Regions from separate parts of the Homo sapiens genome. Here all the other regions are linked to region 3. The links come from fine-mapping of genetic effects on gene expression. A gene starts in region 3. Each other region holds a variant in brackets. All regions are shown on one strand. Distances are from middle to middle.

Region 1 (8,000 bases), 24 kb before region 3:
ACAAAACAACCCACCTCTCAGCCTCAGGCTCCTCCCAGACAAAATGGAAGGGTAATGTACAGAAAGCCCTCAGCCCTGAGGGGTGACAGCAAGCCTGAGGCTGAGCCAGTCTCCCCACTCTGCGAGACCTCAGGCTGCTGAAGCTCTCAGTGCTCCAGTGCCCCCGCCTTGGAAATGGGAGGAATAACAAGGCCACAGCATGGCCGAGGCCCAGGGAAGACCCATGGGCGAGGCTGGCCTTGGCCACATGCCATCCTCACTGCACCTACCCCCATTTCATCCATGAGGGAACGCAGGCAAGTGGCCTGGGGTCCCCATCCTCAAGGAGCTCCTGGTGTGGCTACCACAGGGAAAAACAATCTGGGCACCCCCTGCCCCAGAACAGGAGCTGGGACAAGGCCGTGAGCCCTGGGACACAGATCTCCCACCCCATCCGTTCCACACTTGGTTAGTGGGGCCTCCCCTGTGCCGAGCTCACAGGCAGACCACTGAGGGACACAGGGGACTCCAGGTGTCCAGGAGGGGCTGGCCCAGCAGCGACTAAGGAAAGCTGGGCAGGACAGTTGTGCTGGGTTTTGAAGGATGAGCAGGAGTTGGGTGAGGAGGAGGGTCTGGCGGCACAGGCCAGGATTTGCACTCTGTCCAGGGTTACTGGGTGAGGGCCCCTTAGACAATCAGTTCCACCTACACTCATCACACACTTATCACGCACACTCACTCTGTGATAAACAAAGGGGAGCCTTTGAAAACTTGGCGGCGGACGAGACACACAGAGGCCCAGGCGGCAGAGGCAGCCACAGAGCCAACAGTCCCAGGAGCTTTATCAGTGCCACACCCAATCACCTCCTATCAGAGCTTCCTCTCACCATGTCCTCAACCCAAGGCCAGATGTGAGTGGAGCTGAAGTGCCTTGGAGGGGACACCCCAGGGCAGGGCAGGGAGGGGGGGCAGGTGGCAGGAATGACAAAGTGTGAACCCGTGGCCAGCTCCAGAACCTCCTCCTGCAATCATCCACAGGGTTCAGCCTCGCTGGGCCTCGGCTGTGGAAGGAAACCCTCCCAAGGCTCCTCCCTAGAAAGGCTGGGTGGTTCACTGAGTTGACGCCATGCCTCCGGCACCCGGGTCCACAGGGGCTCAGTGGGAGCATCCCGTGGGTGGGTGCCCCTCCCCAGCCCTCCGCCAAGGCCTTTGTCATGGCCCAGTGAGAGGGCAGAAGGCCCTGGCGTCAGCCGCTCCCTGTGGGTACAGGGAGTCCTGCCACCCTCCAACAGCCCCCGCATGGCAGGCAAGGCCCTGACCCACAGCGTGAGTCATGGGGCACAGGCAGTGCACGGCCACCGAACCCAGAAGGAGGAAGGGTGCCCAGGCCTGTCTTGTTTGAGCCAGGAGCAGCTCACCACGTACAGCACCCACCCACCATGCACGCACTTCAAGTCACCAGGGCCGCCTCCTCAGAAGGGAAGTGTCCTTATGTGACAGATGGCAGGTGAGCACAAACAAATCAGGACACAGCCTGACACCGTCCAGTCAGGAGGGGCCAGGAGCTCTAGCCGCCACAGTGAGGAGGGCCGGGTCTTCGGGCTCACCCGGCTGGGCCCCAGCAGCCCCTCCTGGGGTCTCTGATCCCTCCCTCGGCCCCAGAGACCAGTGGGCCTGCTGCACTTGCGGGACACACACCCACAGTCTGAATGGCATGGCCCAGGGCAGGGATAAGCACTTCCCAAGGCCATCAGAAGGACCAGCCCAGGGGCCCAGGAGGGAAGCCTAAGGAAGGAGGGGTGAGGGCCGCGTTCCCAGTCACTCTGGTCCTGGCCAGGGCCAGGCAGAAAGCTAGGGGCTCCTCCACCAGCCAGCGGCACCCCTCGTCCCTGCAGTGGCAGCAGAGTTCCCAACACCCCACCCCCACACACACATGGAAGGGGGACCTCATCCAGCAAATCTCCCTCCCAGGCACCCACCACCCAGCTGCTGAGACCCCAGAAAACGCATAAGGCCCTCACCTTCCGCATCATCTCCTCCCCACCTGCCTGCACAGGAAGGGCGGGCTGAGAAGTGAGCCCTGTCTCGCCCCTTCCTCCCAGCAGAGCCTGCGGTCGGGGGCCACGGAGGCAGGATGCACACCCTCGTGCCCCGGCGTTCTCACACCGAGGCTCCCCAGGCAGGCAGACACAGACAGAGGACAGGCAGGCGGGCAGGGGGAAGGCCACTGTCAGACACCCGGCCAGGCTTTCTCTGGGCCCAGTCCCGAGGGAGACACCCCAAGAGGCGAAAGGGAGGAGGGCCCCTAGAACAGGACAAAGGCGAGCCTTCTCCCCACCCCCGCCCCCCACCTCTGGGTCCAGGCTCGCTCACTGACTCCCGGGGGCTGTCCCTCTGTCAATCTTTCCTTGCCCCTCCTCCTCCGTCGTCTCCCACACACAGCTCGGGTCAGCCAAGCTGGGGAGCTGTGGATGATGACACAGGGCTGGCCTCGGGGATCTTTCCGCCCTCATGCTCCAGGGGCCCCTGCAGGGGAGACAGAGGGCAGGATGGCCAGCTGAAGGCCTCCGTGGTCACAAGCTCTGAGGCCTTGCAGGCACTCAGCTGGGGATACCAGGGACATCGCAGGACAAGTCTGCACCGAGACCAGGGTTGGCGTGGGCAGGCCATGGTGGGCGCCCAGGCAGGGGAAGGGGTACAAGGCCCTCTGCCTCCCCTCTCCTGCCCCAAGATGCTGCCTGCTGTCTGACACATCAGGCTGGGGTGGCAGTGGTGAAAGGGGTACAATGGGAGTCTTAAACCCCCAGGGGCAGAGGGAGCCAGTCTGAGGACAGTCCCGCAGATCCCATAGTCACCTAGTTCCCCAGCACACAACCCCTCCTCCAAGCCCATCTCTCAAATGCGAGCTGTCCCTGCAACCAGACACACAGGACCCCTCTCCCGGCTGCTGCTCACACCTCCCCATCCCCACTCCGACAGTGGAGCCACCTAAGCCTGCTCCCCACCTCTGGGTGGAGAGTCTCGGTGGCCTCCAACAATCTAGGTGCCATGCAGGAGGCCACAGCAGCCCTGACGAGAGAGCAGAGGGAGGAAAAGAGGTTCTAAGCCCACCACTCACCTCCACATTTCATGTGGCCCTCTCACCTCCTTATTTTCAAAGTATAAACCTCAAAGAAAGTGGAAAGGATACTACAGGGACTATCATCTACCCTTCACCCAGATTCACCAATCAACTGTTACCACTTGGCCACACTCATTTGCTTTTTTCTTTTTTTTTTTTTCTTTTTTTTTGCTTTTCTCTTTTCTTGCTATGTCGTCCAAGCTAGAGTACATGGCGCAATCATGGCTCACAGTAGCCTAGACTTTCTGAGCTTAAACGATCCGCCCACCTCAGCGTCCCGAGTAGCTGGGACTACAGGCCACTGCACCTAGCTAGTATTTTTACTTTTTGTAGAGACAGGGCCTCGCTATGTTGCCCAGTTTTGTCTGGAACTCCTAGCCTCAAGTGATCCTCCCACCTCAGCACCCTCAAGGTGCTGGGATTGCAGGTACAAGCCACCGTGCCCAGTCACTTTTCTCTATATATAAACCGTTCCTGCATTTGTATGTTTGCCCAGCCAACAGAAGGTAAGCAGCAGAAGGGTCACTGGGATGACCTTCGCTCCACAATACTTCACCCCTAAATACTCCAACAGATTTCCTAAGAACAAGAACATGCTCCAAAATGCCCATGATACCATAAGCACCCCCAATACATCCAAAATGTATTTTAAAATACCATCTACCACACGGTCCGCATTCAAATATCCTTGGGTGCCCCCCAAATGCCCTTTATGTCTGGGTCTAGGATCCAACTGTGGTTCACATATTGCTTCTGATTGTCGGGTCTCTTGTTCCTTTAGTCCAGAATATTCCCCGTATGCCTATTTATCAATGTTATCCATTTTTTTTCTTTCGTGATACTGGTATCTTTTTAAGAGTGCAAACCAATCACTTGGAGAATGCCCCACACTCTGGATCCATCTGATTGTTTCCTTGTGAGGAAGTTCAGGTTAAAGGCTGCTTTGGCAAGAGTCCTGCAGAGGGAGGCTGAGCCTTCCCACCGCACCACAGCTGTGTTAGGCTTGACCGCCGGGTCTGAGTCGTGTTTGCCAGATCTCTTGGAAAGGAAGGTCACTTTTCTCTTAGTCATCTGCAGGACAATCACGGTCACTGTGGCAAGGCAAAAAGTTGTTGAAATTTTTGCACAGTGCCTTTACTATCCATCATTCTTTGCTATTCAGTGTGAGGTCTGTGGGCAGCTGCATGACAGTCTTCCAAGAGCCTGGAGGAGAAAAAAAACTGCAGACCTGCTGAACCAGAGTGTTCCCTTTAACAAGTCC[C/T]CCTGGCGCACCGTATGCGCAGTGAAGTCTGAGAAGCACTGCAATAGCATCTTGGCTGGAACCCGCTGTTACCCAATCTCCTCCACGTGACCCGGCATTCCACAAACACGAGCCTCCCCTGGTCTTGCCTTTGCGAGGAGGGTGGTGAGGATATCGTGAGTCCTTCGTTTTGCGTTCGTGATTCATTTTGATGCTCAAACATCCCAAGTGCGACCAGTGGGAGGTTTCGGACACGTCCTCATTCATCTCCAGGCGCTTCCTTACTTTCTGGCACTAGCAGATTCTCCAGGCTCAGCCTGCACTGTCCCTGCCCCAGCCCTGGCATCAGCCATTTCTCCAAGGAACCCTGATTTCCTTCGGTGGAGAGGCATGCTCATTGCTCTTAGGCATTTCAGCGTTCCCTCATGCTCAGAGCCGCAGATTATTACCCCTGCTTTAGAGATAAGAAAGGAAAGGCTGCGGCACTGAAGGATTTGGCTCTGCAGCGAAGAAGCGACCGAGCTCAGATTCTGTGGCTTTGTGGTGGTGGTGAACAAGCATCATCACTCAGGTCTGTCTGCTTCAAGAAGTGAGAAAGGAGACAGACCCATGGCCTAGCAGCTGCCCTCTGAGCCCATTGCAGTGTTCCTTAGGAGGCCACACTGACTGTGGGCTGTGGCACCTGCCCCAGGCTGGTGACTGCACAAGGGGCAGCTTCCTGGTCTCATCCAGCCCAGGGAAACTCTCTTCCTCCTCAGAACCCAGTGAAGTCACACGTACAGAGGCGTCTTCAGAGCAGCAGTGCTTAACCCAGAAGCTAGCAGTCTCCTGGTGACGATTGAGGCCTTGTTCTCCCTCCATCCCCCGCCCCGCCCCACCCCAGAGCTGCTGCTTCACCCTCAGGTTGGGAGGGGAGGGCACCCAGACCTGCAGCCAAGGACAGAGGGGCTAGAATGAGGGTCCCAGACTCCTTGGGAAAGCTACGGGCAGCTGGGCCCCTTGCAGCAGCCCCAGCTGTGGCTGCAAAGGGGAGAAGTGGCCCAGGTTCCTGCTGGAGAGCAGAGCCCAGGGGCACCGGGAAGTGAGTCCCAGGAAGCAAGCCCAGAACACACAGCACACTTCTTAGCGGCTAGCCACCCTTCAGGCTATGCCTTCCAACTTCTCAAAGGCACAATGACTTTAAAGATAAGTGCATTCCATCTGGAGGCAAGAACGCTCCCCAGCCCTCAGGGCCCCACACAGCAGCACAAGCTCGGCCATGTACATGCAGCAAGCACCTCCAGTGTGAGATGACGCCCACACACGCTCACACACACCCTCCCTGGCAGAGCCACCTGTTCATGGCCCTCCTGGGCACAGTAGGAAAGTGGAGGAACCACGAAGAAGCCACAGAGACAAGCAAGAGGCAGAGGGAGGCCCGGGGAGAGCCCATAATGAGGAAGGAGCCCGAAAGAAAACCAGAGATGGGGAAACCAAGAGCGAGCCCAGGGTGGCCAGACGCACCCCCAGCAGGAAGGGCCCAGCACCTCTGGGGGAATGGGGTCCTCCCCCTCAGCTCACACCCTCAGGGCTGCTCCGAAAGGGGGAGCTGAGCCAGGCCTCAGCCCCCTTCCCTAGCTCCTCTGTGCCCCCATACCTGGGGCCCCCATGTCCCCTGGGCTGGATATGAGGTGGTGGCAGGAGGGGCTGGCTCTAGGGACAGGCATCTGTCAACCTGCCCTCCCTCGAGGGAGATGCTGCCAGCTCAGCTCTCACTTCAGAGGGGACTCCCTCCCCATCAAATTCCTTCCCTATGGAGCCCAGTTGAGGCCCCCACATGTGCCCCTCTAGGTAAGCTCCACAAAGCTCACAGTGCAAAGCATGACCACCAGGGAATCTCTCCTCCAAGGACTCACCTTGGGGGACACATCACCCTTGAACCCCCTCCCGTTGGGTTCATATCCCTAGGCCACCCTGAGGTGATGACCGTTGGTCCTATTTTACAGATGAAGAAATCGAGGGTCAGGGCGGTCACTCAGCTAATGAGCTCTAGAGCCAGGATGCCACACCTGATCAGTTCCAAAGCCCAGACTCAACTTTTGACTCCCAAACTGGGGCACACAGACACTGGGGGGAGCGGGCGTGTGTCTGGAGCTTGCTGAAGAAGATTCACACTCCATCTTGCTTTGATCCAAAGATCGAACTGGTAAAGAAAACACTTTTGTGACATAACCAACATAGACAGCTTGTGGATTAGAACGCAAAGCTGACAAAGATTTTCACGATGAAATACAAAACCGGGAAGACATTCCTCCCAGGAAGGCCTGGCCTCGCCCCCACATGGTAATCCATCTTTTTTTCTTTTTTTTTTTTTTAAGACAGAATCTCGCTCTGTTGCCCAGGCTGGAGTGCAGTGGTGCAATCTCGGCTCACCGCAACCTCTGCCTCCCCGGTTCAAGCAATTCCCCTGCCTCAGCCTCCAGAGTCGCTGGGACTACAGGCGCACGTCACCACGCCTGGCTAATTTTTGAATTTTTAGTAGAGATGGGGTTTCACCATGCTGGCCAGGCTGGTTTCGAACCCCTGACCTCGTGATCCACCCGCCTCGACCTCCCAAAGTGCTAGGATTATAGGCATGAGCCACCGCGTCCAGACAGTGATCCGTCTTTTTAACAAGTCCATGACCCCCAGGAAGCGCCTGGCCTCACCCCCACATGGCGATCCACCTTTTTGACAAGCCCCCATGCTCCGTCCCCTGACACCAGTCCACAAAGACTCATCACACTTTTCCGTGGTCCCCTGCTCAGAAAGGCTGACTGAGGAAGCTGCCTGGCCTCTCTTGGGAGGCCGTCACTCTAAAATGATGATCTCCTTCCTCTTTTTGGTGATTTTCCCTTTCCTTTGTGAAATACTGGTGAGAGCAAAAAGTGGTGTTGGGTTTTCTCTTTTACATCCTTAACTGACAATAAAAACTTGACCAACTACGTCAGCCCCACCACAATGCTTTGATGGTCAAAAACGAAAACACAGAGAGCCCTCCCAGCCCGGCCGGCCCCTGGAGGTCCTGTCTGCATCAGAGCTGGCAGCCCAGCCCCGCCCCTGAGAAAGAAGGGGGAGGGGAAGGAAGTTGCAGGGTCTCCTCCTCCACACTCATCTCTGCAGCTGGAAGGGAAGGCTCCCGCCCCAGAGAACGAGTGTCCAGTTGACTCCAGGCCAGGAAGGCCCCCTCCCCGTCCTCTCTCTCATCCCTCCCAGGGTGCCTGAAATTCCAGCCGGTTCTGTAGATAAGCCTATGGCCTGCAGCCAGGGTGGTGCCACGTGGACCCCAGAGGAAGCCAGGGTGGGCTGCGGTGGCCTGGGGAGCCCCGAGCAGAGCACACAGCGTGAGTGGAGGCAGCAGGGGCCAGAGTCAGGCTGGGAGGGGGCTGGGGTGAGCACTCTCACAGTGGCCGGCGGGGCTGGACCAGCCAAGGGCAGTGCAGGACGGACGGCAGAGCAGGAACCGCTCATCCAAAGACCACATGTGCTCCAAATCCTGGCAGGGGAGGGAGGCGTTTCACAGTGAGGAAACCGAGAGTCCCATGTCAGTAAGCAATGAGCTAGAATCCGCACACGGCCCACCGCTACCAAGCCCTTGGATTTTATCAGCCACCCCACCACCTTCCAACCAGGAGGGCTGGA
Region 2 (8,267 bases), 61 kb after region 3:
CAGGTGGCTCCTTTGTGCCTCTTCTGTGGCCACAGGAAGCCGTGACTGGGCTTTCCTGCTATTCCAGGAAGAGGAGAAGACAGGTGCAGCGAACTGAGCACCAGCTGCACCCAGCCTAGACCAGCCAAACTCCAACTGACCCTGAGCTGCACCAGCAAGCCCAGTGAAGACCAGCAGAGCCACCCAGCACAACCCAGCCACCTCGGGATCGGCTGACCCTCACCTGACCCCAAGATGCATGAGCAAGCCAGGCAGAGACCAGCAGAGCTGCCCTATAAGAGCTGCCACAAAGCCCAGCTGACATTCAGCTGACACCACAGGGAATCCAGCTAAAATCAACAGAGCCACCAGCTGAAGCCAACCAGGCAAAATCAGCCAAGCCCCAGGCAACCTACAGACTTGCTGCCAACAAGACTGAGCTGCTCAGTGAGTGGATGAGGCCTGGGACCCCACGGCACAATGACCAGCCCCCACATTGCAGAGGAGCTCTGGTGGCCCTCGTAGCACGCCCCATACAGCATCTTATAGCCCTAAGAGCATCTCTCTGGACAGCATTATCCTGAAGGACTTCCGTGTCATCACACACTTCACTCCATGCAGGAGGAATTTGAAAATCCTGATTTCCATGCTCATTGTGGGATGGCACGATCTTCAAATGTGAAAGCTGGAAATCCCATTTACTTCTTCCCTAGTTTTTGGAGGTGAAATTCAAGAAGTTGAAACCCCTAGTGGAGCCCTCCAGGATGGTCTCACACCCTTCCCATGCACACCATGGAGGGGCTGAATCAGGAGTGTCCTGCGGCCTTTGTGGGCAGGAGGAGGCCTCCAGGGCCACAGAAGGAGAGCTGAGGCCAGAGAAGAAAGACCATCACCAGTGTTGACAGCCTACCAATTCTCCTCAGAGGAGCTTCCTAACCTTTGACCCTTCAATGGACTGGGGCTGTGAAAATGCATTGATTCCCTTATTTCTCATGGCAACTGGCCAGGGCCCCGGTGGCCAGAGCGCTAGGCCATCATCTCAGCCTGCAGCAGCCTGCCTGTGTCCCTGGGGGTGCAGGAGGAGGGATTTATTTATTATCAGAGTCTGTGGTGTCGGATTGAGAGTAAGGTTGGGAAGCACCTTTCACGCGCTCGTTCCCCTCCCACCTCGATGAGGTCTGGCTTGGTTCCAAGCGGAATGTTCCCATGTTCTCTGCAGTCTGTGGACAGAAGGGTCCTGGCTGCCTGAGGGTTATAGCCATGGACTCTGGGCCATGGAGGGGCCACTGACAGCAAGAGGCTCTCAAGGTACTGGTCCTGGAGAGGCTGTATCAGGCAGAAGCAGCTTTTCTGGGGACCCTGGGCAAGACCCAGACCCCCGTGGACTGCCTCGAGAGACAGTGAAAGAAGGAATGAGAAATCGGGACCATGAGGCCCTGCCCCATCCTTGCCCCACCCCTCTCCTCCCTCAGGACAAATCCTGAATTTCAAAACCACTGCTTTACAATATACAGTCAGAAATGGGATTGGCGGGTTGTGCAGTATTCACTTAGCCAGTCACTCTGTGTGTAGAATGGTCGGGGTTTTCGTATCTGCCTTATTCTTAGTGAGGCTGACTACTTTACGTTTAGCAGCCACTACAAATTGCCTGTTCATCCTAAAAATTATTCTATCTCCTCTACCTTCTGCGCAACATTATTTTGCAAAAAAAATTCATGCTGCTATCTAGTCATCATTGTTTTTCCCAACTTTGGGTTTTGAAAATGTTCAAGTCTACAGAGAAGGTGAAGTGACAGCGTGATGAACGTCCACGCACCTGTCACCTGGCATCACCCACTGTTAACATCCAGACACATGAGCTTCACCTCGGCCCATGGACAGACACATTGTTTTCTGAACCATTTGAGTGTGTCACCATAGTGCTTTGCCCTTAAATATTTCAGGGTGCATCTCCTAAAAATAAGGGTGTTTTCCAACCTAATCATAATACTGCTATCACACCTAGAAAAATAACAGTAATTCCACAGTATATGGTATACCACCCATCTTTAAAATGTTCTAGTTTCCCCCCCCAAAAAAAATGTCTTACAGGTGTTTTCTCCTACAGATAAGGTGGAGGAAAAAGGAAGGACTCAGTTATGTGGCTGATGTCTAATGGGCCATTATATAACATAGTTTTGAGCAAGAGTGACATGTCACACTAACTGAGGTTCAAGGGAGCTACTCTAGGAGACGTAAGTGGACAGGAAGGTTAATTAGGAGACTATGTCAATACATAGAGCTTAATCTGATATCCTCAAAATGCTTTCACCCTTTGGTTTTACAGGCAGGGTGGGAGGTAGAAAGCTACTTATTTAATCTACAACAGTGTTTGCTTTTTGTTTTTCATGACATTGATTTTTTTTTTTTTTTTGACAGAGTCTCGCTTTGTCACCAGGCTGGAATGCAATGGCACAATCTTGGTTCACTGCAACCTCCGCTTCCCGGGTTCAAGCGATTCTCCTACCTCAGTCTACCGAGTAGCTCGGACTACAGGTGTGTGCCACCAAGCCCGGCTAATTTTTGTATTTTTAGTAGAGACGGGGTTTCACCATATTGGCCAGGCTGGTCTTGAACTCCTGACCTCATGATCCACCCACCTCGGCCTCCCAAAGTGCTGGGATTACAGGCATGAGCCACTGCACCTGGCCTAATATGTCTTTAAAAGACAGGGTCTCCCTCTGTTGCCCAGGCTGCAGTGCAATGGTGCGATCCTAGCTCACTGCAGTCTCAAACTCCTGGATTCAGCAATCCTCCCACCTCAGCCTCCTCAGTAGCTAGGACCCCAGTCACTCACCACCACACCCAGCTACAGGCAGTTTAATTTTTACCAGAATGAGTGGCTAGGCATGGTGGGTCACGCCTGTAATCCCAACACTGTGGGAGGCTGAGGCAGGTGGATCACAAAGTCAGGAGTTCAAGACCAGCCTGGCCAACATGGTGAAACCCCATTTCTACTAGCAATACAAAAAATTAGCCAGGCATGGTGGCGGGTGTCTGTAATCACAGCTACTCGGGAGGCTGAGGCAGGAGAATTGCTTGAACCCGGGAGGTGGAGGCTGCAGTGAGCCGAGACCGGGCCACTGCACTCCAGCCTGGGCAACAGAGCAAGATGCCGTCTCAAAACAAATAAATAAATAAATAATTAAAAAATAATTTTTACTAGAATGCTTCTGTTGTGGACAACCAACCTGAGACCCAGTGGTGGGCGTGGCCAACCTGCTGATGAGTGACACAGCTGGCGCTAGCAGTGAGCCTCCTGACTCCCACCCTGTTAAGCCACGCGGCTTTCAGGTGGTTCCTTATCTCCAGTCACATCACCAATTTTGATCCATAGCCAAAGCTATGTTGTCTAATGCAAGGTTAGAAAACCTTTCTGGGCCAGGCACGGTGGCTCATGCCTGTAATCCCAGCACTTTGGGAGGCCGAGGCGGGCAGATCACGAGGTCAGGAGATGGAGACCATCCTGGCTAACACAGTGAAACCCCATCTCTACTAAAAATATGAAAAATTAGCCAAGTGTGGTGGCGGGCGCCTGTAGTCCCAGCTACTGGGGAGGTTGAGGCAGGAGAATGGCGTGAACCTGGGAGGCAGAGCTTGCAGTGAGCCAAGATCGCGCCACTGCGCTCCAGCCTGGGCGACAGAGAGAGAATCAGTCTCAAAAAAAAAGAAAAAAAAAAAAGAAAACCTTTCTGGTTATTACCACCAATCACTGGTAACATTTATGGAGTCCATGACACACATTGTGTTGAGCTCTTGTGCACAATCTCATATCTTCACAGCAACCCTGAGAGTGGTTAGCATCCCCATTTTACAGAATGGAAAACTGAGGCTCATGATGCTTAAGTGTTACTTACCCTTACTTATCAGAGTCGAGAATCCAAACCTGAGCCTTTGAACTCCAAAACCCACATACTTGTTACAAAGATAGGTGACAGAACCCACTTCGTGCTAGGGTGCCGAGTGGCGAATTCGAGATGTGCATTTCAAAGAGTGCTGGCCCAGTCCCCGTGCCTCCCGCTGGGAAGGTGTCCGGTCATGCTGGAGCATGAGAATGAGCAGTGTTTCATGGATTTGCCGGGAGATACTGAGGATTTGTTTTTGTTTCATCTCAACTCTCACATATAAACAATATGAGAATATTATCTTCGTCCTTCACAGAGCATTATACTATCTCCGGAGTATTATGAATAATACAGCTGTCAGTGAAATCAAATAAGTGGATAAGGGGTAAAGAACCGGGCACTATCATATTTCCTCTCCACAATGGGGTGTTGCTGTTGAATCAATCCCAGCCATAGTCATCACGTATTGATTACATTTAACCAAAATTCCAGGAATATGTGAACTTCAGCTGCATGTTCAAATTAAGATATTTTCTTTTCCCATAGCAGGCTCTGAGCTATATGATTTTGGAACTGGAATTACAAGATGACATAGTGTCATTTGATAATTAGGCTAATGATACTACCTGCTTAAAAATGTACACAATTTAAATGAACGGCATTTAGGAGTCTGATGATTGGTCTATTTCTTGTGGATTTTCTGTTGCGGACTGCAACTCACATAGGCTATGCATTTGTGGAGTTTGAGTCTGAGGGTGTTTGCAGCATAGTTGCTGAAACAATGAACAACCGCCTTTGTGGTGAGAGACTCTTGGAGTGTAAGTGCTCCTGTCTTAC[T/C]GCGGGGTTGCCTGGGTGCCTGCTGCTGGTGGGTGACTGTGGTGGGAAGGGCGGCTTGCCTAGCTGCTTGGACATGCCACTTCATCTCTGGGATGACTCTTACAGAATGGTGCAAGGATTTCAGTGTATGCTGCAGGCAGATTCTAATTGGAATTTTAAAATCTCCCAGCCTGAGAGCTGTTTTTACCCTAAATGGAGCTGGACAAGTTACCTTGGGGTCCCATGGGAGGAGCAGCTAACCCATCCTTATGGGCTGTGAAAGGCTTCTCTGAGGAAGTAGCATTGACATTAAAACCTGGAGACTAAACAGGAGTGAGCCAGGTGAAGGGGACAGGAGTGAAGACAGACCATTCCTGGCTGAGGGACAGTGAATGCCTAACCAGAGGTGCCTAACCATTTGGCTGTGAGGTAATGTGAGGAAAAGTACCAAGAGATGAGGGAGCAGGAAGAGGCTTCAGGTCAGGTTACTGAAGGCCTTCTAAGTCAGCGAGTTCAGAATTTATCCTGAGGGCACTGGGGATAGAATCAAAGGTCAGGAATCGCATTGCAAAATCCATCTAAATGGCAATGGCTGCAGCTCTTCCACGTGAGATAAGCCAGGGGGAGTGGAGGAGTGACAGCACCAGATGAGTAGTTCATCCTGCAGAAAGGAGCCAGTGCAGCCCCCTACCCTGCAGTCCATAAGGTGCAGACAGCATCCCTGTCCAGATCCTGCTGCCCTTGGGAGGCAAAGCGAAGTTTCTGGCCTCCCTGTGCCCATGGCGGCCTGTGGCCATCTTAGGTACCCAAGTTCACAGGCATCTGCCCAAACAGCTGGCGAGGCTGCCCAGGTGGCATCTCTCTGTCCACTTCCCATAGCTGTGAGAGAAGCTGACTGCCTAGCTGAGGTCATGGGTTCATTCTCACATTAAAAGCATGGCTCTTGCCAAGAGGAAATGAGCTGGGTAGGTGCCCTGAAAATTGTCGACCGCACGTACCAGGTCGGTGCTGTGCTGTGTTGGACTTGAGAAAAATAGCTGAAAGGGCTCTGAATGTAGAGTTGGGGATTGTTGCTCCTGTCTAACAGCACTGACGAACTCCACTAGGGCAGAACTGGCTCATCGAATAAGGGAGGAGACCACCCCTCATATTGTCTTATGCCCAATTTCTGCCTCCAAAGAAAGAAGAAGTAAAAACTAAAAGGCAGAAATGAAATCCACAGGCAGACAGCCCTGCGCCACACCCTGGGCCTGGTAGTTAAAGATCGACCCCTGACCTAATCAGTTATGTTATCTATAGATTACAGACGTTGTATGGAAAGGCACTGTGAAAATCCCTGTCCTGTTCTGTTCCATTCTTACCTGTGTATGCAGCCCTCAGTCACGTACCCCCTGCTTGTTCAATCAATCACGACCCTCTCACGTGGACCCCCTTAGAGTTGTAAGCCCTTAAGAGGGACAGGAATTGCTCACTTGGGGAGCTCAGTTTTTGAGACGTGAGTCTTGCCTATGCTCCCGGCCGAATAAAGCCCTTCCTTCTTTAATTCGGTGTCTGAGGGGTTTTGTCTGCAGCTCGTCCTGCTACACTATCACTCTGACATGAGATCAACTGTGGCATCTTGATTATGCTGTGGGAAATGGCACCAGGAGATTCTAAAGTGAACGTTAAAATCCCTCCCCTACCATTTGGTTGAAACCTTTTTTTTTTTTTTTTTTTTTTTTTTTGGAAATGGAGTTTCGCTCTTGTTGCCCAGGCTAGAGTGCAATGGCACTACCTCAGCTCACTGCAACCTCCGCCTCTTGGGTTCAAGCAATTCTCCTGCCTCAGCCTCCCGAGTAGCTGGGATTACATGCATGAGCCACCATGCCTGGCTAATTTTTGTATTTTTAGTAGAGATGGGGTTTCTCCATATTGGTGAGGCTGGCCTTGAACTCCTGACCTCAGGTGATCCACCCGCCTCGGCCTCCCAAAGTGCTGGGATTACAGGCGTGAGCCACTGTGCCCAGCCTCAAAACTTTTTATCTTTTCAAAATACAGGTCGGTTTCTGCCATATGAAAAAGCATATGATGAAGTTTTTAAAAGCTGGAATGTTCCATTTTCAGAGACACCTGCGTATCCAGCAGTAGAAAGACATAACAAAAAAAATATGTATACAAAAGTAAAAGTGAAGAACCAATTGCTTAAAAAAAAAAATTACAGCCCAGCATAGTGGTTCATGTCTGTAATCCCAGCACTTTGGGAGGCCAAAGGGGGAAGATAGCTTGAGTCTAGGAGTTCAAGGCTAGCCTGGGCAATACAGTGAGACTCATCTCTACAAACAATAGAAAAAGTGAGCCAGGCATGGTGGCGCACACCTGGAGTCCGAACTACTCGGGAGTCTGAGGTGAGAGGATGGCTTGAGCCCGGGAAGTTGAGGCTGCAGTGAACCATGATCACGCCACTGCACTCCAGCCTGGACGACAGAGCCAGACTCTGTCTCAAAGAAAAAAAAATTATTCAGAAGGAAAATAGCTTTAAAAAAGGAACATATTGCAGTTTTCCATCTTTAGTATACACTGCTTCATCAACTCTTTGTTGTTTGGAGGGATGATGGGAGAGTTGTAGCTCACTGGTTGCAATGTAGTGTTGGGGGTCCCAGGCCACACTTTGGAATTGTTCTTGAAAACTAGTATGACCTAAACGTGCACTCCTGCACACGAAGGGTGCCCACGCAGCTTGCCATTCCTTTCAAAGGACCAGGCCTCACCATCCGCCAAACATGCATTTACTAACTTGTGGACACTTACTAATGTGGTCCTAAGCTATCTCTTCACCCGTATGAATTTGCATTTTTTTGATGACCAGCAAGATGTAACTACACAGTATGCAGTGACTGCCAGTCTGAGAAGAATGAGACTTCCTCAACGTCTATACTGGTTCGAAAATTGACAGTGAAGTAAAAAGAGGAAAAAAAAGCAAAAGACAAATGACTGAGTTTCTCACAGTTCCACTGGGAAGAATTAGAGTTCCTGAGAGACGGTCCTCCACATTCAGATGAAATCATGCCTGCCCATATGAATCACCTGCAAAGCACAGCAAAGTAAAGCTCAAGTCATGACGTGAATACAAGCTAGGCCTCGGATTTCCCTCAAAGCAAGGGAAGGAGACTCTCCCAGCTGGCTTCCTCATGTTCTCACTCTTGGCAACCAGGCCTCACTGGGGATTTGTCACGTTCCTAAGCCAAGTATATTTTCCCTTCCATTCTTTTCTTAAAAGAATAATAGCACCAAGAACAGCACCGAGGTTATATCAGAGAATGTGCCTGTGTTTAGGAGATGCTGCTGGAGTGTTCGGGGGAAGTGACATGCTGTCTGCCACTGATTTTCCAACGACTCACACATGCACACACGCACACAGTGTGAGAAAGAGACCAAGAAGAATTGACCAAATATTTTTTTTTTTGAGACGGAGTTTCACTCTCTTTGCCCAGGCTGGAGTGCAATGGCATCATCTCAGCTCACCGCAACCTCCGCTTCCCGGGTTCAAGTGATTCTCCTGCCTCAGCCTCCCCGTAACTGAGATTACAGGCATGCACCACCACGCCCGGC
Region 3 (8,229 bases):
CCAGACACATGCACCCTGCCTGAGACAGCATCGGGGACTCAGCCCAGGAGGCACTGGGCCTGTGTCCAGGCAGGATTTGATGAATGAGTGATGGCAGAGAACAAACAACACAAATCAATCCACCATCAGCCTGCGTCAGGCCCAAATCCCTTGTTCAAAAACATTCACTAAGCACCGACTGGGGCCAGGTAACATCCTCAATGCACACACCTGGATGTGCCCTGCCGTGCCCTCAGGGATCAGCCAGACCAGTGGTGGAGGCAGAAGGGTCAACAGGTAACAACAGTCAAAAAAGAGCTGGCTTGGGGACCCTACAAGAGTGCAGGCTGCCCTTGACCACACTGTCACCCTCACAGTCTGGATGTTTGTTTGGGCTGGAAGTGGATGTGGGAAGGCCGGGGGTGAAGGGTGGATGCAAGATACGGGCCCTTCTTCCTACGCCAGGACGCCAGGACTCTCCCAGCCTCCCAGCACAGCTCCTGCCATCCTTGCTCAGGAAACGCCTTCCTGTAGCCACAGGGAAACTGGAATTGCCCTATTACCCACTGATTTCACCAAGGCAAGGTAGGTATAGTGGTGGGGCTGCCTGTAAGAGACTAGGATTCCAGTTTCATTGACAGTGGGAGTTAGAGGCGGCACTGATCACCAACAGAAGACACTGAGGATGACCCTCCAATGATGGCACAGACTCTACAGGAAGGCACACAGCAGAGGCTGCTGTGGGTTGAGGCATGGGGCTTCCTGCGAGCAGGGCCTGCAACCCAAAGGGAGGGGAAGGCTACTTTCAGAGACCTGGCCTGGATGCCTGTCATGATGGTCATGCTGCCTTGGTTTCTGATGGGGGGAGGGTCCCTAACTAGTCTCCGGCAGGCAGAGAGCAGCTGGAACACTAAACAACTCCAGTCCCAGGAAGCCCGGCATGGGCAAGGTCAGCTGTTGGCCAAGACCAGCATGCCTAGCTGACCAACTGTCAGCCAACTGCCCGTGGCCACAGAACAGGGGCTCAAGAGAGAGGGATGGTGTCTCAGGAGCTCAGTGATACATCACCACCTCCTTGGAGGGGACACAGCCCTTGCCTACTGCCCCGAGAATGACATCAAAGATGCTGCTGCAGAGAAAAGACAACCAGGGCAAAGGAGACACACCAAGAGCCTTGGGGAGCCAGGAAGGGGTGGGACACCAGTGGGAAGGGGGCAGGGAACACAGCTCAGCTAACCTCCCTTCCCATTCATCTCCCTGGCCCTTTAGGGAAGGAAGCAGGCTCTGGCCCAGGGCTGCCTGCTCCAGGCACACAGATGGATTACCCAGTCATGGCAGCCCGGAGCAGGGGTGGCTGCATCTGTGCTGCCACCCCCCCACCCCACAACCTGAAGTCTTCCCAGCCCCCAGCCAGCTATTCCTGGGGCTTTAATCCCTCCTCCTCCTCCTCCTCCTCCTCCTCCTCCTCCTTCCCTGGGGTGGGGGGTTGGGGAGCTGGGTCTGGGCAAACCTGGACTTGGCTGAGGGCCCTTCCTTCAATGCACACCCACCCACCTCCTTAGCCAGGAAACACAGGGATGAGCAGTAGGACTCTGAGGGAGGTATGGGGAAGCTCTAGGCGCCCCCCTCTCCCCCATCCCCCAGCAATCACGTGGTTGCATCCTTAGGGAGCCCGCGGGTCTCAGAAGCAAAAGTCATTGTTTATAAACAGCCACCAGGCCTGGCAGGGGAAGGCCGGCCTGTCCCTGCGCCTCCACCCGGCGGCCGCGCAGCGGGTGGGAGAGGGGGCAGGCCTGGCCGCGGGGCACTGGGGGGCCACCCTGGCAGAAACACAGATTCTGCAATCTCAGATTTCAGAGTTGGAGTCGTCAGGGGAAGTGGCGTCAGCAGCTGGCGTGATCCAATTCAATAAACCAGAGGTGGCTTGGGATAGACAACTGACCGGGTGCAGACCCCCGCCCCTCAATCTCTGCATTTCCTGCACGCTCTGGGCACCCTGGGAGGCCCCGGCTCCATCCCCCATTCCAGCTCTCCGCGAGGAGGGGTCGGGTTTCCTGTGGCGCCTTCCACGCGCCTCCTCCAGGCCAGCTCCCCACCCGGCCGTGGGCTCCCAAAGCCAGTGCCGCCACCCGCTCCCCGGCCGCCGGAAACGCTAAGCCCCTGCTGGGGCGAGGGCACCTCCTTGCGGGGTGCGTAGCCCTGGGCTCCCGGTGGGGCCGGGCTGGGCGGGAGCTTCCAGGCCGCAGGCACCTCTCGGGAAAGGAAACCCAATCCCTCCTTCGGCCCACGGAGAACGAAAGTGGAGAAGCAGTGGGAAGGAAGGAACTGTGGGTGCCGGTTCGAGAAGCAGCCTTGGGAGTCCGGGGGAATAGTGTCCCCAGGGGCAGAGGGACATACTCCCTCTCGCCCCGAGCGCCGGCCCAGCCTAGGTTGCCTGCATGGGCCTGGAGAGCTGAGGGTCACCACCTGGCCTCCCAGCCTCCCGGCCCTTGGCCTCCAAAGCGGGGTAGCCTGGAGCGCGCGCCTGAGAAGAGCCTGGAGCAGGGCCGGCCACTGCTGTGCAGCCGAGCCACGAAGGTGCAAAGCGGGGCCCTGTCCTGCCCCGGCCGGGTGTGGGGAGACAGAGGACGCAAACCTAAGAGGGCACCCAGAGCGCCGGGGAACGCAGCCTGGGGACCTCGAAGCCCCTCGAAAGCGCTCCTCTAGAGGTGACAGCACCAGATCCTGGCGAAGGACCAGGCCCCGGGGTCGGAGGATAGGGGGACAGGTGGCCGGGGCTCCGCGGCGGCTGGGACTCCGCGGCTGCTGGGGCTCCGGCTCGCTCACCTTCTCCTGCGCGCGGGTGAGCTTCTTCTGCACGTTGCTGGCGATCTTTCCCGCCGTCACCCCTTTACTGCCCATCTCTGCCATCGCGGCGCAGGCCTCGCCCGGTGGCAGGGGCCGCTCTCGCGCGGGGAGATCTTGCGCGCCGCGCTCCCAGCCCCCAGCCCCGGCCGCGCGTCCAGACCGGCTGCCGCTCCACGCCGCGCACCCGACAGCGGAGCCAACTGACGGAGGCGGAGCGTGCGCCGGACGGGCGAGCGAGCCAGCGAGCTAGCCAGCGAGCGACGCGGGGACAGAGGGAGGGAGAGGGGAGGGGCCGGGCCTCAGGCCGCGGTCGGCGCCCCCCGCCCGCCCCCTCCGGACAATAAGCTGCCTTTTAAAGGGCCACTCCGGGCGCCGGCACCGCCAGGTCCGCGAGGAGGGAGGGGCGCGCGCGGCGCTGGGGCTGCGGCGAGCGGGACTCCCCTGACGCTCCAGCTGCACCGCCCCGGGGCGGGGACTAATCCGCCGGCCTGGCGTCTTGGTCTTCCCCGCAAGCAGTAATCTCCTGCAACCCAGGAAAGGAGACTAGGTGGAGGAGAGGAGTGCTTTCGAAATCAAAGAGAAAGTGCGGCGAAGGGGGCGCGGCCCTGAACAGAGGAGCCGCGGCTGCTGGGAGAACGCGCCCGGAGCCCCCTCCTTTTCCAGGGGCTCACCTCCCGCCCGGTGCCCGGTGCCCGGTGCCCGACGCTCCGCCTCCTCCCAGCCTTCGGCCCTCGGGTTTTCGCCCGGATACCCTAGGCGCCTCCGGGACATCTCCACATCTTTGCCTACGGCGCCTAGCCCAGTACCAACCGGTGCTTGGTCTTCCCGTTCGCTAAAAATTTATTATAATAACAACAACCTAGCATTACTGAGTGCTTACTGTGTACTAAGTGACTTGACAGGCATTATTTCATTCGGTCTCCGTGGCCCTAGAGGTAGGTGCTATTACTGTTCCTACTTTACAACCAACGCGCCGGGATCGAGGAACGAGATCTCTGCCTCTGTCTCCCAGGTGCTCCACCACCATACGCCGGGTTGTCTCCTACCCCCAGCAGGAAGGAATGATTAGTGATCATTATTCCTGGAGAAGATAAGGTTATTGCTAACCAGCTTTGCCAATAGACCAATGACACTTCTTTTAAGTTAATAAATACGTATTGAGTCTGCTGATACCCACCCCCATTCAGCCCTAAAACATGTCAGGGGCTACAGCACTTTGCTGCCCCTGGAAATTTCTAAAGAACTGTTGATTGAGTTGAGCAGAGAGATAGGTCCCGCTGAAGAGGCCTAGACGTGTCTGGTGCACACACAGGAGCCAGGGCTATGGCCTGCAGGACCCGCAGCGGTCAGAGGAGCAGAGCTGGCCAGGGACAGAGGTCCCTGAGAGGCTTCCTGGAGGAACAGGAAGGGCTCTTGCAGACCACAAACCAAGCAGTTTGTACAAATGGAGAAATCGAGTCCCAGGAATGAGAGGTTCAGCCTGGGTTCACACAGGCCATTCCCTCTTCCCTGGAAGGCCCTCCTGCTCTTTCTCCGGCTACTCGGGGTTCTTCCACCACCGCTCAGTGCTGCCCCATGGCCCAGTGTGTTCGTCTGTCCTCTTCCGGGCCTATTATCATGATGTCCCTCGGTATCCCCCAGGGGACTGGTTCCAGCACATCCGTGGATACCAAAATCCAGGGATGCTCAAGTCCCTCATATGAATTGACACAGTATCTGCATATAGCGTACACAAATCCTCCAAAATACTTTAAATTATCTCTAGATTCTTGTAATAGCTAATACAATTTAAATACTATGTAAATAGTTGTTAACGCTGTATTTTTTATTTATTTATTTATTTATTTTTAGACAGAGTCTCACTCTGTCGCCAGTCTGGGGTGCAGTGGCGCAATCTGGGCTCACTGCAACCTCTGCCTCCCGGGTTCAAGTGATTCTCCTGCCTCAGCCCCCCGAGCAGCTGGGACTACAGGCACGTGCCACCATGCCCAGCTAATTTTTGTATTTTTAGTAGAGACGGAGTTTCACCATGTTGGCCAAGATGGTCTCCATCTCCTGACCTCGTGATCCTCCCGCCTTGGCCTCCCAAAGTGCTGGGATTATAGGTGTGAGCCACCGTGCCCGGCCTTGTTTTTTATTTATATTATTTTATTGTTGTAGTCTTACTTTTTATTGTATTTTTCCAAATATTTTCAGTCCACAGTTGGTTGGATCCATGGATGCCCAACCCACAGATGCAGAGGGCTGACTGTATTCTTATTCTGCAGGAAGACAGACTGAGGCGCCGCTGATGTAGGTCACACAGACAGCAAATGATAAGCAGAGATTCTGCATCAAGCCTTCCTGCACCAATGCCCTCAAAAGCACCAAGCGCTGCATGAGTGAAAAGCATCTGTCAAAATTATTATAAACTCATGCCCGATTTGTGAGTCACAAAAGCAAAACCTACACAGTCTGGGCTTCTAAAGCAGCTTCCTCCTAAAAGCTCAACATGCTTTCAGCTCATGATCTCCTTCCTCCTCATTTTCTGTTGGTCGTTTTTCTAACCATTCTCTAAAAGTGATTTCTTCCAACACTCCTCTGAGGAAAGGAGGAAATGAGCAAAGTCAAATTGCATTACAGTCAGCCCCCAGGGAACAGTGGGAGATTCTGCTTCACTGGACTCTGGTGTTTCTAAATATCGCTTGACAGAAAAATTGGAAGCAACGGAAGTGTTCATTAGAGGGATGGGGTCAGCTGTGACAGCACAGCCACAGGAGGGGCCATTGGGAATCATTTAAAACAACCATTACCGAGACTACGTAGCAACAAGAAAATAATGCTTAGGGCATAATTATGAAGGAAAGGAAAAGATAGGAAATTGTACTTGCAACCATATAAAAATAAATTAAAATAAATTAAAAGCTCATGATCAATGTCTTGAAAGAACAATGCATAAAGGAAGCAGATGTGTTAGGGTCCAGGCATTAAGGCTGACTTCTTTCCCCCTTAATTTCCTTAATATTCTATAATATGACATAATGCCTTGCCTATAATCCCAGCACTTTGGGAGGCCAAGGCAGGCGGATCACTTGAGGTTGGGAGTTCGAGACCAGCCTAACCAACATGGAGAAACCCTGTCTCTACTAAAAATACAAAATTAGCCGGGCGTTGTGGTGCATGCCTGTAAGCCCAGCTACTCGGAAGACTGAGGCAGGAGAATCACTTGAACCTAGGAGGCAGAGGTTGCGGTGAGCCGAGATCGCACCATTGCACTCCAGCCTAGGCAACGAGAGCAAAACTCCATCTCAAAAAAAAAAAGAATCACAGCTCTGTTTTTTTAGAGGTGATTTTTTATCAGATCGCTAGATTAAAAAGATATTTCTAAACACAAAAGCACTGGAGAATATATTGAAATTTTAAAATGCTTGCTTTGAGGTACATAAAAATTAGAATTCTTAAACTTCAGAAAATACCATAAAAACATAGGATAAAAGTTTGGGAGGAAATGATCTAAAAATGTTAGTACAAGTTCAAGGGGTAGAATGTAGATTTTTACTTTTTTCTGTATAATTTTCTATAGTATGTTATTTTTTTTTACCATGACAGCCCGTTATTTTAATTACCAGGAAAAGAGTTATTCCCATTTTGAAAATAAGTTTGACATAAAAATTAAACTGTAAGAAACTAGGGAAAATTTTTTTGGCAATAAAATAGAACTCTTACAAATTCATAAGAAAAACATTAAAACCCCAATATATAGTAGACAATTTATAAAATTGGATATTCAAATAATTAATAAATAGGTTTTCGAAAGTCAGACTTACCAGACAAAAAGAAAGGTTCATTAAATCAATGAAATACCATTTCTGTTTTCATTTTCATCAAATCAACAAATTATTTTTTAAATTATGTTACTTAATAAAACCATAGAGACAGAAACTCACATTCTACTTCTGAGAGTGTAAACAGATAACAGAATTTCTAGAAAGCAATCTTGTAATAGAATAAGAATAACCAAAATATCCATATTCTTCCACCCTATAATTCCAAGTCTATGATTTAATTCAAAAATTTGGCAAAGCTTTCACCACACAGATGTTCATCACATTATTTATAATAATGCAAAACTGAACACATCTAAATATCACCACCTGAATGCCGAATGATTAACTAAACTATAGTATGGCCATGTATGAAATGTTTACCAAAAGAATATGTTCTTGAAGTTTCTCATGATAGGGAAATGTGATGTTAACAGGATAATACAGTTTAATGTAAACAGTATCGTGCCAGCCGCGATCCAAAACGTGATTGATATCTCCAGGTGGAGCAATTCGGGGTGGGGTTTTTTTCTCCTACTTCTTTTTCTTTTTATTTTCCAAACTTTGTACATGTACTCTTTTTGTCATCAGAAAGAAGTGCTATTAAAAATACAAATTGAAATGAGGACAATGTCCCCTGGGGCAATAGTTGGGAAACCTCAGTGTGGCAGAATAGAAAGATAAAGCACACAGGCAGAGGGAGTGTGCCGTGCATCCAAACGGTGAGGGCTGGAGAAGCCATGTTTCTGTGTTTGTTTGCTTGTTTGTTTTAAATAGACTTTATTTTTATTTTTTTTTTTTTGAGACGAAGTCTCGCTCTTGTACCCCAGGCTGGAGTGCAATGGCTCGATCTCAGCTCACTGCAACCTCTGCCTCTCGGGTTCAAGTGATTCTCCTGCCTCAGCCTCCCGAGTAGCTGGGATTACAGGCGCCCAACACCACACCCAGCTAATTTTTGTATTTTTAGTAGAGATGGGGTTTCACCGTGTTGGCCAGGCTTTTAGAACACTTTTAGGTTCAGAGCAAAAGTAAGCAGAAGGTACAGAGATTTCCCATAACCTTTGCCCCACACATGCACAACCCCCCTCACTATCAACATCCCCAGCACAGTGGGACATTTGTTACAACTGAGGCACCTCCGTTGTTGCATCATTATCCCCCATAGTTCATAGTTTATGTGAGAACTCACTCTTGGCTTGTACGTTCTATGGGTCTGGGCAAGTGTACAATGGTACGTGTCTACTGTTAGAGTATCATATAGAACAGTTTCGCTGCCCTAAGAATCCTCTGTGCTCTGCCTGTTCATCCCTCCCTCCACCCCCCAGCCCCTGGCAACCACTGATCTTTTTGCTGTCTCCATAGTTTAGCCTTTTCTAGAATAAATGCCGTATTATTGGAACCATACAGTTTGTAGCCTTTTCAGACTGGCTTCTTTCACTTAGCAATATGCATCTAAGTTTCCTCCATGTCTCTTCATGGCTTGATCATTTCCTCTGGCACTGAGTAATGTTCCCTTTTCTGGATGCACCACACTTTATTTACCCACTCACCTATTGCAGAACATCTTGGTTGCTTCTGAGTTCAGGCCATTATGAATAAA

The links. PIP is the estimated chance that this variant, and not a neighbour inherited with it, causes the effect.
Region 1: its variant is fine-mapped to the expression of BIN1 in whole blood (INTERVAL, PIP 0.96).
Region 2: its variant is fine-mapped to the expression of BIN1 in whole blood (INTERVAL, PIP above 0.99).

The regions. Positions count from the first base shown.
Region 1 is chr2:127,079,832-127,087,831 of GRCh38, forward strand. All of the region lies in intron 1 of BIN1 (bridging integrator 1), which reads right to left. Among named protein-coding and RNA genes, the nearest start is that of BIN1, 23 kb to the right of the region's middle. RefSeq lists enhancers at 1,174-1,403, 1,724-1,853, 2,424-2,483, 2,524-2,723, 5,196-5,335 and 1 more. The variant C/T (reference allele first, on the strand shown) is at 4,362.
Region 2 is chr2:127,165,442-127,173,708 of GRCh38, forward strand. It overlaps the pseudogene NIFKP9. Among named protein-coding and RNA genes, the nearest start is that of CYP27C1, 51 kb to the right of the region's middle. RefSeq lists enhancers at 1-295, 296-889, 5,505-6,056. The variant T/C (reference allele first, on the strand shown) is at 4,701.
Region 3 is chr2:127,104,055-127,112,283 of GRCh38, forward strand. It overlaps BIN1 (bridging integrator 1), which reads right to left and starts at 3,100. Exons shown (of 19, transcript NM_139343.3): 1 at 2,806-3,100. The coding sequence starts at 2,889. It overlaps LOC105373605 (a long non-coding RNA gene), which reads left to right and starts at 3,091. Exons shown (of 4, transcript XR_923311.4): 1 at 3,091-3,761. RefSeq lists an enhancer at 1-228 and silencers at 2,948-3,157, 3,039-3,333, 3,168-3,227.